2 separate regions of the Homo sapiens genome follow, and region 2 is linked to region 1. The links come from fine-mapping of genetic effects on gene expression. A gene starts in region 1. The other region holds a variant in brackets. All regions are shown on one strand. Distances are between the middles of the regions.

Region 1 (9,475 bases):
CATTTATGGGCACAATTGTGGGCCCAATTCACAACCCCCGCAGTGCACTCCTGGGTGTTGTCCCCAGCCAGGGCCACCTGGCAGGGGGAAGACGGGCTCCACAGCAGGAGCAGACCACAGCCAGCCCCAGACCTAGAGTAGGACATTCCTGAAAAGGAGAATCCCAGCAGAGGAGGAGAAGGGACAAGAGATCTGTCACAGCCATTCCTGAATCCCGACAAACAGCAGCAGCTCAGTGCTGCCTCCCACCCAGCTGGCAGCCGGGCAGCCGGGCAGCCTGTGCTGACGGGGCTGGACATTTGCAACACTCTGGCCTCACCTAGAGGGTTGTAAGGAGGTTTTGGAACCATATAAGCTTCAGCTCTGAGAGCCTGCCTCCTAAACCTAAAGTCACCCAAGGTGCTTCCCTCTGGGGCCTTGCCCGTTTTGTTGTGGCTGCTTCTTTCTCAATGCCATCCACTTCTGCACTCAGGAGAGGATCTGGCTGAGAGCTGGGATTGGACCAACTCTCACCTCACCAGTCTCTACAGGAAAAGCACTCCAACCTGCCCCTTTGACCACCCATAAATTCCAAAGAGTCTTCTAGAGTTCAGATACCCGGGAACCACCCTGTGGAGAAGTGGCCGTTACCTCCTTTGTGGCCCTACCAGAGGGAAGAGGGGAGGACTCTTTGCTCCCAGGGGTTCATGTGTCTGCTTTAATGATCAGGGAGCTACGGAGGACTGTGACTTTTTCTTATCGGTGTTTTGCCCCCATCACTTGGCACAGGGTAGGAGCTGAATGAATAAGTGTAAGAACACATAAGTGGGAGCATTTCAGATATTCAGAAAGCGATGAAGGAGGAGCTGTTGGAGATGGTTGTACCTGCAAGCACGGGATGCAGATGACCACACACTCTGACTGGGAAGCCCAGCTTCAGGCAAAACACCTGCCTACCCCATGGGTTCTCACTCCTGACTCCTGAAAAATAACTCTCCCAGGTGCTTCAGTTGAACGGTTGATAAATGTTCTATCAGCTCTGCGGTAGGATTGGCCAACCTACATATATATGCATTTTTTAAATTGAGATTAAATGCACATTACTTAAAATTTACCATTTTAACCATTGTAAAGGGTAAAAATTTACGGGTTTTAGTCTATTCACCATGTTGTGCAACCATCACTACTATCTAATACACAAACATTTCATCACTGCAAAAAGAAGCCCCGTACCTGTTAGCAGTCACTCCCATTTACCCCCTCCCTCATCCCTTAGCAACCACTAACCTGCTCTCTGTCTCAGTGGATTTGCCTATTCCGGACATTTTATATAAATGGAATGATACAGTCTTTGTCCTTTTGTGTCTAGCGTCTTTCACTTAGCATAATGTTTGTAAGGTCATCCATGTTGTAGCATGGCTCAGTATTTATTCTTTTTTATGACTAACTAATATTCCGTTGCATGAACTATGCCATAATTTGTTTATCCATTCATCAGTTGATGAACATTTTGATTTCTACATTTTCACTAGTGTAAATAGCATTGCTATGAACATTTAGGTACAAGTATTTGTTTGAGTGCCTGTTTTCAATTATTTTGGGTATATTTCTAGGAGTGGATAGCTGATTCATATGGTAATTCTAAGTTTAACTTTTTAAAAAAATTACTATTTTTTTTTAGAAAACAGGGTCTCACTATGTTCCCCAGGCTGGCCTCGAACTCTTGGCCTCAAGCAATCCACCTCGGCCTTCTAAGTAGCTGGGACTACAGGCACAAGCCACTGAGCCTAGCTTAGCTTAAGGTTAACTTTTTGAGGAAGCTCTAAACTGTTTTCTACAGTGGCTGCACCATTTTACATTCCCACCAGCAATGTATGAGGGTTTCAGTTTCTCCACATCCTCTCCAACATATATTATTTTCTAGGTTTTCTTTTTCCTTATAGAAATCCAGTGGTTGTGAATAATATCTCATTGTGGTGATTTGCATTTCCCTAGCCGCTCTGTGATCAGCCCTAGTGACTGATACTAGTGAGCACATTTTTATATGCTTTTTGGCATATATTTGTATATATTTTTTGAGAAATGTCTACTCAAGTCATTTGCCCATTTATTAATTGGCTTGTTGAGTTGCTAAGAGTTCTTTATATATTCTGGATACTACACCCTTATCAGATCTATGATTTGTAAATATTTTCTCCTATTGTGGATTGTCTTTCCACTTTTCTTGATAGTATTTTTCATGCACAAAAGTTTTTCATTTTGATGGAGTCCAACTGGCCAGCCTACTTTAAAAAATTTTTTTAAACTTTTTATTATGGAAATTTCCAAACACACACAAAAGTAGAGCATGGTATGATGAAGATCCCTGAACCTGTCATGCAGCTTCACAATAACTAACACTTTGTCAATGTTGTTTCATCTGTGCCCCTGTTTTTTTGTTGTTGTTGTTGTTTGGATTTGGTTTCGTTGGAATATTTTGAATCAAATAGTAGACATTGTGTCATTTCACCTGTAAACACTTCAGTATGCATCTCTAGTAAGAATTTTTTGGTTTATATAAACTCCATGTCATCATCCCATCTGATGAAATAAGCAATAATTCATTAATATCATCTAATATTCAAATCCAAATTCAAATTTCTCCAAGATGCCTTTTGTTTGTTTGTTTGTTCCTTTGTTTGTTTGAGACAGAGTCTCACTTAGCCACCCAGGCTGGAGTGCAGTGGCACAATCTCGGCTTACTGCAACCACCATCTCCCAGGTTTTAGCGATTCTCCCGTCTCAGCCTCCTGAATAGCTAGGATTATAGGCGTGTGCCACCATGCCTGGCTAATTTTTGTATTTTAGTAGAGACGGAGTTTCACCATGTTGGCCAGGCTGGTCTTGAACTCCTGACCTCAGGTGATCTGCCCTCCTTGGCCTCCCAAAGTGCCAGGATTACAGGCGTAAGCCACCGCGCCCAGCCCAAGGTGTCTTTTTTACAGTTAGTTTATTTGGTTCAGGATCCCAATAAAAGTCACATATTGCATTTAACTGCAATGACTCTCAAGTCTCTTTTCTTTTGAGTCCCCCTCCTTCCCTGTTTATGCCATTGATTTGTTGGATAAACCACGTCATTTGCCCTGTAGAATGTCCCACATTCTGGCTTTGGCTGAGGTCACATTGCACTATTTACATACAAACAACTGAGCAGCCAAAATTGGGGGGGGGGGCTCAGAAACAGAACAGACTTTAATAATAATAGCTAATGGCTAGGCGGCACAAACCGTGAGGCACAGGTTACATATACACCAACTCATTTTATCACACAGCTAGTAAGGGGTGGAGCCCGGCTTTAACCCTAGGCAGTCTGTTTTCACCCTCTGTAAAGGATTGGGCATGGCTGTGTTCCAAGAAAACTTTATTTACAAAAGCAGGTGGAGAGCTGGATTTGGTGCACAGATTAGATGATCCCTCATCTACCTCACAGAGCAGCTGGAAAGGAGAAATGACAGATGGCACGCTGCTCTGTGGACTGTACAGTGTGAAGCACCTGGGAGGAGCTTGGGGGGCAGCGAACATGGTAATAAACATAAAGCTCAGAGCTCCCCGCCAAGGGTGAGCGCTTCCAGACGGAGAAGTACACGGGCCGGCCAGTCAGATGGGCATGGGTTCTGATGGGGGCCCTGCCATAGGCCGCCTGGTGACCCACGCGGGGCTGCCGTTCCTTCGGGGGTTCAACGGCATGATCAAAGACACCGGGATGTGTGTGTGTGTGTGTGTGTGTGTGTGTGATGATCAAAGACACCGGGGTGGGTGTGTGTGTGTGTGTGTGTCATGATCAAAGACACCAGGGTATGTGTGTGTGTGTGTGTGTGTGTGGCATGATCAAAGACACCGGGGTGTGTGTGTGTGTGTGTGTGGCATGATCAAAGACACCGGGGTGTGTGTGTGTGTGTGTGTGTGTGACGGAGTCTCGCTCTGTCGCCCAGGTTGGAGTGCAGTGGCGTATTCTCGGCTCACTGCAACCTCTGCCTCCCAGGTTCAAGCGATTCTCCTGCCTCAGCCTCCCCAGCAGCTGGGGACTACAGGCGTGCGCCACCACGCCCAGCTAATTTTTGTATTAATCAAAGACGCATTTCAACGCAGAGGAGGAAGTGCTAGCGGACCCACCCCAAGGTGCACAGTTAGAGAAGGAGCCTCTGCGGCGGCCGGAGCCCCCCACGGACATCCCCTTGAGGCCCCCCCAGCCACACCCCCAAGAGTCCCGCCCCCAGACCCGTCGAGCGAGCTCCCCTCCCTGAAATCCTCGCCCCGAGATCTCCGGCCGGCGAGCTCCGCCCCCTGAAGTCCCCATCCCAAGATCCGGGGCCGGCGAGCTCCGCCTCCCGAAGTCCCCGCCCCCAGATCCCCGGCCGGCGTGCTTTGCGGCCGCCCTGCCGCGCGCACATGTAGGCGTTCCGAGCGGCGGCGGAGGTGAGCGCACGGACGAGCGGGAGGGACCCTTCTCCGGCCTGATGCGACCCGGTAACGCGTTCAGACTGCGGAGTAGCCTAGGGGCCCAGAGTGGAAGCGTAGCGAGGACCCCTCTGCGGGGCTCCTGCAGCCCCTCCTCCCCCAGCCACCGGCGGGCTGCATGGTACTGTGTTCTAGGCCCACCCCGCAGCGCGATGGCCCTAGGGACGTTGGACTTTGGTCCAGACCTTTCCTTTCTTAGCCTCACTTTCCGCATTGGGAAAAAAAAAAAGCCCGAATGATAATGATTCTTATAGGAGTTCTTGATTAAGATAGGCCAAGCGGTACCCTGCGTTTTTGTTTGCGGCAACTCATTCGTTGCTCATTAAGCACTTTTCACGGACAGGAATACAGTAAGTTTCAATCAAAGTGAAATAATTGTGAATTTTTACTGACGTATTCACGGATGAAGTGATAGGATGCCCGGGGATGTTTCAAAATAAACCAGTTGGACGGAAGTGTGGTGGAAAGAGAAATCAAACAAGATTGGCCATGAGTTGATGGGATTGAAGTTGATGGATGTACTATTTTGTCTACTTTGGTATATGCTTGTAATTTGGCATAACAAGTTTTCTAAAACAAAAAGTTTGCTGTGGACACCTGACTATGCCTGTGTTAGCTTGCTAGAGCTGCCATGCCGAAGTACCGGAGACTGGGTGGCCCAACCAGCAGAAATTTGTCCTCTGGGAGTTATGGAGGCTGGAAGTTCAAGACCAGGGTGTTAACAGGGTTGGTGTCTTCTGAGACCTCCCTTCTTGGCTTGTAGGTGGTAGCCTTTTCCCTGGATCCTCACATGATCTTCCTGCTGTGCCTGTTTGCATCCTAATCTCTTCTTATAAGTACACCAGTCAAATTGGATTAGGATCCATACTGATGGCCTCATTTTATCTTAATTATCTCCTTAAAGACCCTGTCTCCAAATACAGCCACAGTCTGAGGTACTGGGGGTTAGGACTTAAATATATGAACTGGGGAGGAGGAGGAGACACAGTGCAGCCCATAACACTGTCACTTCACTAGCTTAGGATTTTGGCCATTTAAGTTTTCACAGCTTTGAAATAGGGTTAGCTGTAGTAATTAGGTCATGGGGTTGTGAGGGTTCAATCGGTAAGAGTGCTCAGAACTGAGTCTAGCATATAGTAAGCACTCAATAAATTGAACACGTTTTTCCTTATAAATTAGTAATCATAGGGCTTTACCATGGGATGAGTGGAATGAGGCAGTTGGAGTGCCGTGCCCAGCGATGGGAATAAAAGTCATTACAGCCATTATTATAAGGAATATCTGCTGCTGTGCCAGACACTAAATGTTTTATGTATGTTTATTCATGTGCTCATCACCGCCACCCTAGAGGTGGGCCATTACGACACACCTGTTTGGCACATGGGGAAATTGACGCACAGAGACGGAGCTGGGATTTGAACACAGGCACTCTGGCTCTAGAGCCCACACTCTTCACCACTATGCTGTGTTACTTTGGTTTAAAAAGGTGGTGTGGACCCTGGAGGATGTTCAGTCTGCAGGCTGACCCAGGGAAACTGGCTGACTTCTCTTTTTCTTGGCCCAGATTGTCCGCAGTGACTACACTCATGGCAGGTCCCCTGTGGCGGACCGCAGCATTTGTGCAGAGACACAGGACAGGCCTCTTGGTGGGTTCCTGTGCAGGCCTGTTTGGAGTTCCAATCTCGTACCACCTCTTCCCGGATCCCGTGGTCCAATGGCTCTACCAGTACTGGCCTCAGGGCCAGCCAGCTCCGCTCCCTCCACAGCTGCAGAGCCTCTTCCAAGAGGTGCTACAGGACATAGGTGTTCCTTCAGGCCATTGCTACAAGCCCTTCACCACCTTCACCTTCCAACCTGTGAGTGCAGGCTTCCCAAGACTCCCTGCTGGGGCTGTGGTGGGCATCCCTGCCAGTTTCTTGGGAGACCTAGTGATCAACACTAACCATCCCGTGGTCATACATGGGCATACAGTGGACTGGCGGAGCCCAGCAGGCGCCCGGCTGAGAGCTTCCCTGACCTTGTCCCGTGAAGCCCAGAAGTTCGCCTTGGCCAGGGAAGTGGTGTACCTGGAAAGCAGTACCACTGCCGTGCACGCCCTGCTGGCCCCAGCTTGCCTGGCAGGGACCTGGGCACTGGGCGTGGGTGCCAAGTACACCCTGGGGCTCCATGCAGGCCCCATGAATTTACGGGCTGCCTTCAGCTTGGTGGCAGCAGTGGCAGGCTTTGTGGCCTACGCCTTCTCCCAGGATTCTCTCACTCATGCCGTGGAGTCCTGGCTGGACCGCCGCACGGCCTCCCTCTCTGCAGCCTATGCCTGTGGTGGAGTGGAGTTCTATGAGAAGCTTCTGTCGGGCAACCTGGCCCTGCGCAGTCTCTTGGGCAAAGACGGGGAGAAGCTGTATACACCCAGCGGGAACATCGTCCCCAGACACTTGTTCCGAATCAAACATTTACCCTACACCACCCGCCGGGACTCTGTGCTGCAGATGTGGAGGGGGATGCTCAATCCGGGCCGCTCCTGATGGGCTCATCACAAGGACACTTCCAGCTTGTGCAGACACCACCCTGCCATTGAGTCTGGAGGGCCCTGTTGGAGCCTTTGGACCTATAGCTCACGGCCAGAAAAATCACTGGCTTTGGAATTAAATAGCTTAGATTGTACTATAACCACTACTTATGAACTCAGGGACTATGAGGGACTATTCAGGGGCTATGAATCTGAGCCTTTGTTTCTTGAACTGTAAAGTGGAGATGATGTAAACCGCCTTGCAAGATTGTAGAGTTGGGTAAGGTCATGAACATAAGGGCCTGGCACAAAGGGTGCACTGTAAATAAACAGACATCCCTCCTTCTTGGTCGTTTTTTTTTTTTTTTTGAGAGCATCTCACTCTGTTGCCCGGGATGGACTGCAGTGGTGACCATAGCTCACTGCAGCCTCAAACTCCTGGGCTCAAGTGATCCACCCTCCTCAGGCTCTCAAAGTGCTGGAATTACAGGCGTGAGCCACCTCGCCCAGCCTCCTTCTTGGTCTTGAGTGCCACCAGGCTGTGGGAGTCAGGGCACACCTCAACACCAGGGTACTAGCAGTTATGTGAACACTTTCCTACAGTGAAGAACCACCCCTCAATTTAAGTGGTGGTCAAATCCCAATTTTCCTCCACTCTGTTAGAGGTTAAAAGACTAGAGAGCCCAAGATGAGAAGTTAGTGTGGTCCTGAGAGGCTGTTTTAAGGTGAGGGGGCCTTAAGAGTGTTGTGTCAGTCAAGGTCCCGTGGATGCAGATGGCACACTCAGGGAGAAGGAGACCAGCACGTGCCAGGAGAGTCCCTGGACCTGAGGGGAGGGGAGGTGTTCCAGAACTCCGAGATCTGTGGCATGGGAGACTTGGCAAGAGCTTCACTCAAATGTAGAGGAAGGAACAAACCATTGTAAGACCGAGGCCCTGCAGGGAGGGAGCCCACTGGCGCCATCCAGAGCTGTCAGCCTCCCCAGGCACAGCGTGGCCAGGGCTTGGAGAGGAGAGGCAGCAAGGTGGGGGTAAGCTTGGCTCGTAGGGGTCAGCAAGGAGAGCAGAGGGGTGGAGGTGGGCAGTGGGTTAGGCCTGGTCCCACTCAGGACCCAGGGGAGACTGCAGCCCTGCCCTGCTTATTTCCCTTGAGCCCTCCGGTGGTGGATGGAGCCGGGCCCCTGGGTTAGATCCTTGGACAGGACCACAGCAGGGCAAGGTGAGGAGAGTTGTGATCAGGGAGCCAGACCCAATTTGGCTTCATGACATCTTTTAGTTGGAGATGAGGTTTTCCCTGGGAAAGTATTTGAACACAGTGGTGGCAGGTCCTGGCAGTAGACCTGGAGAGGAGAGTGAGCCAGTGGGGCTGCAGAATGCAGTGGGAATGGCACACCTCCCTGCTGGGCCCCTCACTGTGGGCTGGAGCTCAGTGTGCTGGGCCAGCTCACGGGTCCTCACACTGGACCTGAACAGGCTGAGTTCCTGAGGGCAGCACATCCTTGCTCATTCCCCAGGCCCTGGTACCTAGGACGGCACTGGGCACGGGCTTGGAATACATAGGTGGATAGATGAGGCAGTGGCTGGGTGAACCAGTCTTCACTCAGGGACACACCATTTCATGGGGCCCCTTGGGGTGTCACCCACCTGCTGCTGCTGTACTTAAAGGGCCACAAGGCCATGTGAGGCCACCTCATTCCTGAGCAGTACGGTCTGGGGCCTGGATTTGATGGGCTCCACTTTCTCACCACTCCCACCCCCAACCCATCTGCTCTCAGTACTGCAGGAGCCATGATGGTTTCAGGCATTCCTGCTGATCTGCCCGAACCATTAGCGAAGGCAGCCTCACGATGGGGAGAAAAGGCTGCTTACTCAGCTCCCTCTGCTCCAAGTCACAGACCTTGTCTCCACTCACAGGCTGTTCCCAGTCCTCACACAAGCCTTACATGCTACCCTCCAACCTTGGCGCACACATCCTCCAGCCGTGTGTATGTGTGTGCGTGTGTGTGCGCGTGCATTGCTCCGCCTTGCTGCACTGTTCGCATCCTCCAGTCCTCCACAGCCCGGCTCAGGCCACCTCAGGCCCTCCCACTGAGAGCCCCCCTGGCAGGTTGGCTGAGCTCCGTGTCCCTTCTTCCCCCTCCCACCCTCCCACTGCATGACTCACCCAGCACCCAGCCTTGGTGCTTTCCCTCCCAGTAGCTCTCGGCTCCATCCCCTTTTCTTCATCTCCACTGGGCCTCCTGACTCTTCTCCCAGTTCTCCCAGCTCCTGGAAGTGCAGGTTTGACTGGGTGACTCTCCTGCCTAAAGCCCTTTAGAGACATCCCCATGCTTTCTGGCGAAAACCGCATCTCCTGCCCATCCGTGTCCCACTTTCCCTTGCTCTGGATCCTAGCCTCACTGCAGTTTGGTTCCTGAACTGCTCTCCCCTCCTGCCCACACAGCTTTCGTGTTCGCTGTGTCCTTGATCTGGGCTGCGGTCTCACAGCCTGCCC
Region 2 (9,475 bases), 120 kb before region 1:
TTTCTTTCTTTAATAAGAAATAAATAGAAATATTTCTTTCTTTAATAAGAAATAAATAGAAATATTTCTTTCTTTAATAAGAAATAAATAGAAATATTTCTTTCTTTAATAAGAAATAAATAGAAATATTTCTTTCTTTAATAAGAAATAAATAGAAATATTTCTTTAATAAGAAATAAATAGAAATATTTCTTTCTTTAATAAGAAATAAATAGAAATATTTCTTTAATAAGAAATAAAGAGAAATATTTCTTTCTTTAATAAGAAATAAATAAATAGATAAGAAACAGCATATTATTTTGTTATCTCTAACGAAGTTGTACTCTCTGGTTGATGTTACCTTGTTTCTAATAGAGTTAAGGATTTTCTTCTGTTTAATTTCACCCACAGTTGGTGAGAGTCCCCATTACATGCCAAACAAAGTGTTGAAGCATTATGGGAAATGCTAAGATAAATAAAATCAAGGAGTTTTCCAAGTAGCAGAAAGTGTTTCAAAACCACCAAATAACTCAGACATGAGACCAGGCAAGCAAGGTGGCATGAGGAAGTCCAAAGAAAATGTTCTGTGGAGAAAAGGCACCGTTTCACCTCTGTAGGAGGGTGTTGGAGGCGTGTGGAGGAGAGGCCATTGGGGGTAGCCCAAAAGCCAAGTAGGAAGTGGGGAGAAGGGATTTGGGGCCCAGAGAAAGACATGCAGGGGCTTGAGTTGAGCCAACAAACGGCGTATTTGGAGGCTGGTTTGCCTGGATGGTAGGGCTTTGGAGCGGGTAATGGAGAAGGTGAGACATGTGGGTTGGGACAAGAATATCAACGTAAGGAACGTGCATGTGATTCAGAAAGCAGCAGGAAGTTAAGGAAGTATTTTTGAGCAGGGTTATGATGCATTTGAGGAAGATCAACTTAGTGGAATTTTAAAGGATAATGTGGTTCTCAACATTTTCTTTCATTAGCATCCCTTAGGGAGACATGAATGAGAGAAACTAAATACTAAGGAATAAGATTTTGTCAGGTAGGATTGAGCTTTGGAAGGTTGTAGCCATCACAATGTCTAAGATTCCTTTGTCCTCCCAAGAATCAGTTTTCACTTCCTTCCCTTGTGGGTAATTTCACCCCCACTGAGAATTCGTGGGGAGCAAGGGAGTATGGTTTAGTTATTGAAAAAGATATGAAGCCTCAGCTCGGCGTCATTCTGCTGCAGAATGGAGACCATGTCTGTCTTTCATATTGCTGCTTCCCCAGCACCTTGTGCAGTGCCTGACATGCAGAAGGCACCCAACAAGCCCTTGTGAGTGAAGGATGTGGAACTCACTTTAATGTAAGAGTTGTGAGGTTATTAGAAGAGTGGCAGAGGCTCATTAATTCCAAGTAAATACAATGTAAAGTCTAGGTGGTCATACTGCTTCGATCAGACATTAAATCAAACAAATAGATAAAAGTAAAGTGATTTCATCTTAATAACATTCTCGGAAATCTTGGGAGAGCCAGCCCCCTGTTTCCACGGCAAAGTGAAGCGGAAGCTTAAGGCAGTTACCTTGAAATTCTTGCCAAACAAGGTGGAAAATCCAACAACTGCTTTTATCTTGGTTTTGCTACAGCAAACTATGCAAATTGCCCAAGAATGGAATGACTGAATGTGTATTTAAAACCACAAATAAATTGTTCATTAACATTTCAGATCAATCCAGATCTGGCTAAAGGATCTGAAACATTTTGCTTGCATTCATGTTGAAATCAGTGTTTCAATTTACTTTAAAATTTGAAATAATGGTCCCTGGTTTTCTCAAAACCAAGACCCCTTAAATTTGTTTTTACCTTTGTGGAGTGATTTGGTCCTGGAAATTATTAAGTAAATAATCCATCAATTTTCCTTTAAGACAACCAGTGTTGCTATTGCCAGCCCAAAACAAAATTGTTAGCCTAAAAAGTCTTACCTTAAATAAATGAACAGTTTCTTCTGGCTTTGTCAAATAATATTTGTTTTTACATCAGTTTACATTAGAGACCTATTCTATTACAGCCTTAGAGACCCTGAAGATCTTGCATCTCAAAATCAGGGCCATGAATCGCATTGGCTTCTCAGTGTGTGGGGTTGGGGGAATTGAAGCCACAGTATAAACATAGTACGTCTTTCTAGAGCATCAATTTTACTCTTGCATTTTGGAGAAATGCAATATAGAGCAAAATTTTAGAGTAAATGCATGACCAAGATGCATTTTAAAATAAAACGCTTTAAAGAACTTATAAGGCTGCTTGAATTTGTCCTTGGATCCCTTATGTTAAGTATGAACCTTCTTTGAGAAGCTGTGTCACTGAACTTGCAGGCCAAAGTGTTGTGTTTGAAGGTTGTGTTTGAAGGGTCGGGACCCACTCCAAGCCAAGACTTCACTGGAGGGCAGGTTCTGCCATTCCCTCTAGAAGGAGGAGAATAGACTCCCCCAAGGAGACACAGAAGGGAGCCTGAAGCAGCATGGGATTGGGGGTGAAGAGAGCTGTGAGCCCTCTTGGGGAAATTCCTACAAATCCTGAGTAATGGCTGTTAAACTTATGACTATTTTATGTGTGGTTGATGGTTTTTGTGGGGTTTTTGTGGAGTGGGAAGCGGTTCTGAAAAACTCTAGAAGGGGCTGAATTTCACTTTGGAGTAAATATGGTGCCCTGTGGAGACAGCACCAAGGAAACAGGGACCCCCAGGCCAGCAGAAGGTCAGCTCCCAGGGGAACAGAGATTCCGGAGGGACTAGGAGTTCTACTGACCAAAAATTGAAACACAGGGTAGGATTTTAGGCAATTTTATGTTGCCTAAGGGTAACGCTGGATTACTTGTGTTTTGTTATGTTTTCAAATAAACTCTTCATATTAATTTAACATACACTTTCTAAGCACTTTATTCATTTTCCCAAGGTTTGTTTTTCCTTTGAATGATTATTATTTTCCCCAGTTTTAGTTATAAATGGAAAGGCAGGACTGCCATTTTATCCCTGAAGGGATATTATTTATAACGATCTAAAAATAAAGCTGATCTGCTGATAAAGTATTAAAAAAAAGACAGGAAATGCAGGCTGGGCACTGAGATGTGCTGAGCCATGAGACGGTAGGATGTAGTGGAAAGAGCCCTAGCCCAGAGCTGGAGACCAGGTTCTAGGTCCAGGTCTTGCACTCACCCTGTGGCATGGACAGTACCAGGTCACTGTGTCTTCATGAAATAAGGACATTGCACAAAATGGCCTCTGCAGTCTTCCTGGGCTCAGACAAATCTTTGAGAGGACAAAGAACATGGATGATTATGGGAAGCAATGAGTATTTGCAACCAAAAATTGAGAACTGCAAAATTAATAAAATCTTCCTATTTTGGAAGTCAGGCTTTTGGATGTTGACTTTGTTTTCTAAAGTGTAGAAAATAAGCTGTTCATTTTTGCTATAATTTGTCATGTTTTGTTGTTGTTTTAAGTTCACTGAAAAAGCTCATTGGCACGATGTCCCCTGGAATTGTCTTAGACATTATTTGGTTGAAATATCCCTGCCCGCACCATCACTATGTCTGCTGACTGCCTTCTCTGCCATCCACCACGTGGATCACAGCTCACTGCTGCCTCAAACTCCTGGGCTCAAGTGATCCTCCCACCTCCGCCTCCCAAGTAGCTGGGACTACAGGTGTGAGCCACTGCACCCAGCTGTCCAGGCCTTCAGTCTCCACTAGTCTCCATTTCACTTCAGATCTTAAGCAGAAGCTGAACGTTTTCTTCCTGTTTCTGAGCTCCTATTAACTAAATATCTACAGTTTTGTTTGAGTCTGTTGTTTCTTATTTCTCTGTTGATCCAAATGAACAATTCCAGTTCAAGAATCTTTTAAAGGTGGACATGGGAAACTATAGTCAAATAATGTATCTTTTATTATCACAAATTGGATCTATGTTGTTTTATTCTCTAAGAAAATCATCTAGTATTTTCTTATTGCTAAATTTTTTTTCTTTTTTTTTTTTTTGAGACAGAGTTTCACTCTTGTCACCCAGGTTGGAGTGCAATGGCGCGATCTCAGCTCACTGCAACCTCCACCTCCCAGTTCAAGCGATTCTCCTGCCTCAGCCTCCCGAGTAGCTGGGATTACAGGCTCCCACCACCACGCCCAGCTATTTTTGTATTATTAGTAGAGATGGAGTTTTACCATGTTGGCCAGACTGGTCTCAAACTCCTGACCTCAGGTGATCCACCTGCCTTGACCTCCCAAAGTGCTGGGATTACAGGTGTGAGCCACTGTGCCCAGCCCTCCTATTGCAAATTTTTTACTCACTTGACAATATAGATATTATGTCATGAATTCTAGCATGCCCCCTTCATGTTCAAATGGGTAGTGGGTAGATTTGGATTTGCTGTGACATACTCATGTTGGAGGAAAGGTCAAGTCTCTTTATTTGTCCATAGGTGCTGGCTGGATCTCCAGTCTTGGGAGTTTAGGTTCCTGTCTTCCTTGGGACCATTCAGGAATACTGGAAAAATGGAGCGAACCCAGCAGCTTTGAGGACAGATCTCTGTTCTGGTCTTCTGCCCATAATGTCGCTTGTTGGAAACTGATTTAAGCCAGTGAGCTTATTTCTAATTGTCAGGCAGATATTGAGAGTCTGACCCTGACAGCATGTGGGAGTCATAGGTCCACTCCTCAGCAGCCTTGCTACAGGTGGTCGGCTGCAGCGAACAGGTCTGAGAAGACACTCTGCAACACATATGAACACTTACTAGCAAGCAGGCAAAAAGATCATTGTGTTTGTAATCTCACGAAGTCCCAGCTGCAGTTCCTAGTGGGGAGGCTTTGATGGCCGCAGGTATGACAACTGGCTGACCGAATACTTTAGTAAAGTGCAGAGCATGGGGGACTAAGGGAGTCTGGGGCCCTTGAATGTCATTCTAAAGGATATTGGTCTTTTGCACTCACCAGATTGTCATACCCCTTTTGTTTGAGAGTGGAAATGCCTGGATAATATTTCTAGTTAATCCATAGATTCTGAGTATCCTTTCTGCTACTATAGAAGACTCTCCAGAATGGATTTAGGTGGCATAATTGAAACACTCTGATGGCTGCCTGTGGAGTGTAGATGCTGGGTTAGGATCCTTCAGTGCTCACAAAGCACTCCTAGAAGCCAGGCACGGTGGCTTACGCCTGTAATCCCAGCACTT[TG/T]GGAGTCCGAGGTGGGTGGATCATGAGGTCAGGAGTTCGAGACCAGCCTGACCAACATGGTGAAACCCCATCTGTCTCTACTAAAAATACAAAAGTTAGCTGGGCCAGGAGAATCACTTGAACCTGGGAGGCAGAGGCTGCAGTGAGCGAAGATCGCGCCACTGCACTCCAGCCTGGGCAACAGAGCAAGACTCCGTCTCAAAAAAAAAAAAAAAAAAAGCACCCCTAGAGTGCAGATTGCTGATTTCCTCTAAGCTTAACCACTCCCAGGGTACATATTAAAACCAGCTTATGCACCCTTGTTTGTTGCAGTGTTCTTACTGAATTATTTTTAAGTAATAACAGATGATAGAACCACTTCCACTTCCAGCTCTTCCTGGACTCCAGCTTGAGGACTTCACAGCCCTCCCCCAATGAGAAGCATGGGGACAAAGCTCTTTGTTAAGATTCCAGGCCTGGGGCTGAGTGGCCCCTCTCCATCCTCAGGCGGGCCCTGTCATCCCAGGACTCTGAGTGTGATGGACTCAGCAAACCTCTCCTCCCAGTCTCTCTCAAAAGGGCTGCTCTCATGGGTCTGGCCCCTGGGAACTCATATCTTCACCAAGACTGCCCATGTGCAGGGCCCCTTGGAGGCCAAGAGAAGCCTGGGAAACTTTTTGTTTGGGCTTTTAACAAGTTTCGTAAGAAAGGGAAGATACACCAAAACAGGGTCACAAAAATTGTAGTGCTTTAAGAATGTTCACATGTAATAAATAAGAACTTTTTAAACACATGCATGACCAGACACAGTGGCTTACACCTGTAATCCCAGCACTTTCAGAGGCCAACGTGAGAAGACCCTTTGAGCCCAGGAGTTCGAGACCAGCCTGGACAACATAATGAGACCCCATCTCTACAAAAAATAAAAAATAAAAATTAGCTGGGCATGGTGGTGCATGCCTATAATCCCAGCTACTCAGGAGCAAATGCAGGAGGTTTGCTTGAACGCAGGAGTTCGAGGCTTCAGTGAGCTATGATTGTGCCACTGCACTGCAGCCCGAGCAACACAGAAAGACCCTGTCTCAAAAATAAAAAACAAAAAACCAACAACAACAACAAAAAAACACAGGCAAACACAGTGTACCCTCATCAGGAGAGAATGTCTAAAGTCTAATTTAGGGCATTGAAGAATGTCAGTCCTCAAGCAATGGGACTTCCAAGCCCCTGGGACAGACCCAGCGTCTGGCCTAGACTTCAGAAACCAAAGGTCTCTTAACCTTCTCCTGGCCCAGGCAAAGCCCAGATCCCCAGAATTCAAAATTCTTGTGTCCCTTTCAAACGAAGGAAGGAAAAACACCTTTCCTCAGAGACCCAGCTGACATATCCACCAGATGATCCTGCCTCACAGGGATGGCCTTCTCCTGTCACTGTCAGAGAATTCCCACCCTCAACTTCCTTTTCATCTGCCCAGGCGTGGATTGGAGGCTGTCTTAGTCACGTTCTTTTTCCTGACTTTCTGATGGTCTCAGTGTCCTCTGGGCCCCTAAACCAGTGGCATGTAATTAGAGAACCTTTAGGAATTGGTGCCTGACTTAGCTCGATTGAATCGCAGGACTAAATTGAATTAAACAAAAAGCACTTGCAGTAACATTCAGGACTGTGGGGAGGGGGCCCTAAAGGATGCTAAGTCTCGGGCTGGGGTGGGAGGGTACTGCAGGTATTGTTCCTAAGGGGGAAAGTGGGGACATGGGGCACGTTTTATAATTCTTGAAATGGTGTGTGTTATGTTTATTATTTTTTAAATGGTGTATGATGTATTTCAAATATTTTGAAAAGTTAAATATAGGATATCTCCTCAAATTCTTTTAGGAACAGATGAAGTCTACATAAATGAGGTGAGTATGCAAATAAAGCCGTGTATTTCCTCTAAATACTTCTTTTTCTCTCCCAGCATCTGGTCAATGTTTCCAATGAAGACACACGTGTTCATATTTTACCCCCGCAAACCAAATACTTTGAGATCAATTATGTAAGAAAGGTAAGCGTCATTGGTTTACCTGTTCTCCCACGGTGTGGTTGTCTGCGTCTCAGGCCTGTGTGGGGTGGGGGGTGTGTGGTGTGTTGTCACCCCCGGTGCTGCTCTCTGTGCAGTCCGGGGCTTGTCCCAACAAGATGCCACCTGTCTTCCAGGAACACCACCTGGTCCCTGGCTTGTCCCTCACGGTCACCGTTACATTTTCTCCAGATGAGTGGCGATACTATTATGACTGCATCCGTGTTCACTGTAAGGTAGGTCTCTTAAAATTGCTTTTTTTTTTTTTTTTTTTTGATGGTGGGTTAAAACTTACATTCTCAATGGTGGCAGAAAGAGAGGTGGAATGACCACTGAGAGCTTTCTTGGCCCAGTACCGGGTGTTCCCCAGGTCACCAGTGTGACTGGCGTGCAAAGCTTGTTGCCCAGTGACATGGCCCAAGATGGGAAAGTGTTAGGCTGCAGAGGACCTGGACAGAGTCAGGAGACGCGGTTTGCTGCAGGCTTCCCACTGCCCTGTGCCTAAAGCTTCATCTATCATGTGGTGCTGGCAGTTGCCGAAGCCTTTTCAAATAACTTCAACATACTCCCTTAAATGCTAGGTTGAAAAATTTACAACCATCCAAGTTATGATTATAAACACCAGCCACTGGCCTATGCCTGGGAATGTCTGCAGAGGCAGCCCTGGTGCAGGGGATGGGGGTGGTTCCGGGAGGTGGGGACTGTTTGAGTTCTTCTGAGCCTTTCCTAGGTCACCTAATTCATCCTTTGGCCTCCAGCCAGAGCTGCCGTCATTCCTTCTCTTAAAACTGTCCCCTCTGCCCCTCCCTTTGCTCTATAGTCCAGACCCCAGTCTTCAGCTTGAGAAGCCATTAGGTTAGCTAAATTATTGATGTTTCAAAACCAAAACAGAAGAGTATACATTAGTAACAAATGAGTTTCTACTTTTTTTCTTTTCAGGCAAATTTCCTACAATCTGCACAATAAGGTGACTTGCCGTGAAAGCATTTCACTTTTTCTTTCCAAAAAAGTTATAAAAATTTGCAAAGTTAACTTTTATAAATTGATAGTGTTGTCTCTGACTCACTTCGTCATATTAGAGATGCATTTCCATAGGGGGAGGGAAAGAATCTTAGACCCAACATACCCACAATAGTATTTTAGATCAAGAAGCACATTTCCTTAAGAATATGATAGACCATTATTATTTTTTTGGAGTTTCAATTAAAAAAAAAATGGCCAGGCGCGATGGCTCATGTGTGTAATCCCTGCACTTTGGGAGGCCGAGGTGGGTGGATCACCTGAGGTCAGGAGTTTGAGACTAGCCTGGCCAACATGGTGAAACCCCATCTCTACTAAAAATACAAAAAATTAGCCAGGCCTAGTGGCATGCACCTGTAGTCCCAGCTACTCGGGAGGCTGAGGCAGGAGAATCACTTGAACTCAGGAGGTGGAGGTTGCGGTGAGCCAAGGTTGCACCACTGCACTCCAGCCTGGGCAACAAAGCGAGACTCCATCTCAAAAAAAAATAAAAAAATAAAAACAAAACCAGAATATTGCTTTCAGATGGAATATTCTGTGCTGAACAGAAGAAGAATGCCTAGAACAGGCATTGTATAAAATGCCAGGACACATTTCCTGTTACTACCAAATAATGCTAATAATAATACCTCACTTTTATGCAGTACTTTTGACATTTTAATGCCATCATCTGCTTTAATTCTTAAAAATGCCTTTAAGGAAAAATATGATTATCTCCATTTTGCAAAGAAAGAAACTATGCCTGGAGAGGTTAAAAGTCCTTCTGAAGGTTAACGTCATATGAGACAAGAAGCAAGTTTCTGTGCCCTCTTGCCAATACATTGTTTTCTATTCTGTGCTGTCTGGATCAGATGATTCTGTGCTGGTTTCTCTTTTTCTTGGGCCACTAAAGACTGTGTTTCTTTATAATTTTCTGAAATAGAAGCAGATAGATTACTGTCTTCATATCTCTATGAGGCGTCATTATCTTTAGCTTCCTTGGATAATAGCGAACATCATTTCAATAAAGAGTACTTAAAATTTTCTACGCTTTGTTTATGGCTAAGAAAACTCAGTATGTCTAATGTTGTAGTTAAGCGCTGAAGTTTCTTAAGGAAATATTTTTTAACGATGGAAACAAGATAAGAAATAAAGCATCTACAAGTTTGTCTAAAAGTTGTAGTCTTCAGAATGTTAAACTTGACTTTTTCTGGTTAATTTTAGGGAGATGACACTTTGCTTGTTCCTATTCATGCCTATCCAGTCATGAACTCA

Evidence for each region.
Region 2: its variant is fine-mapped to the expression of TMEM177 in whole blood (TOPMed, PIP above 0.99).

What each region holds. Positions count from the first base shown.
Region 1 is chr2:119,674,792-119,684,266 of GRCh38, forward strand. TMEM177 (transmembrane protein 177) reads left to right here and starts at 4,410. Exons shown (of 2, transcript NM_030577.3): 1 at 4,410-4,485; 2 at 6,041-7,327. The coding sequence starts at 6,063. The coding sequence ends at 6,998. RefSeq lists a silencer at 4,257-4,486.
Region 2 is chr2:119,552,590-119,562,064 of GRCh38, forward strand. It overlaps CFAP221 (cilia and flagella associated protein 221), which reads left to right. Exons shown (of 24, transcript NM_001271049.2): 4 at 7,100-7,186; 5 at 7,339-7,437; 6 at 9,425-9,475. Among named protein-coding and RNA genes, the nearest start is that of CFAP221, 13 kb to the left of the region's middle. The variant TG/T (reference allele first, on the strand shown) is at 5,169.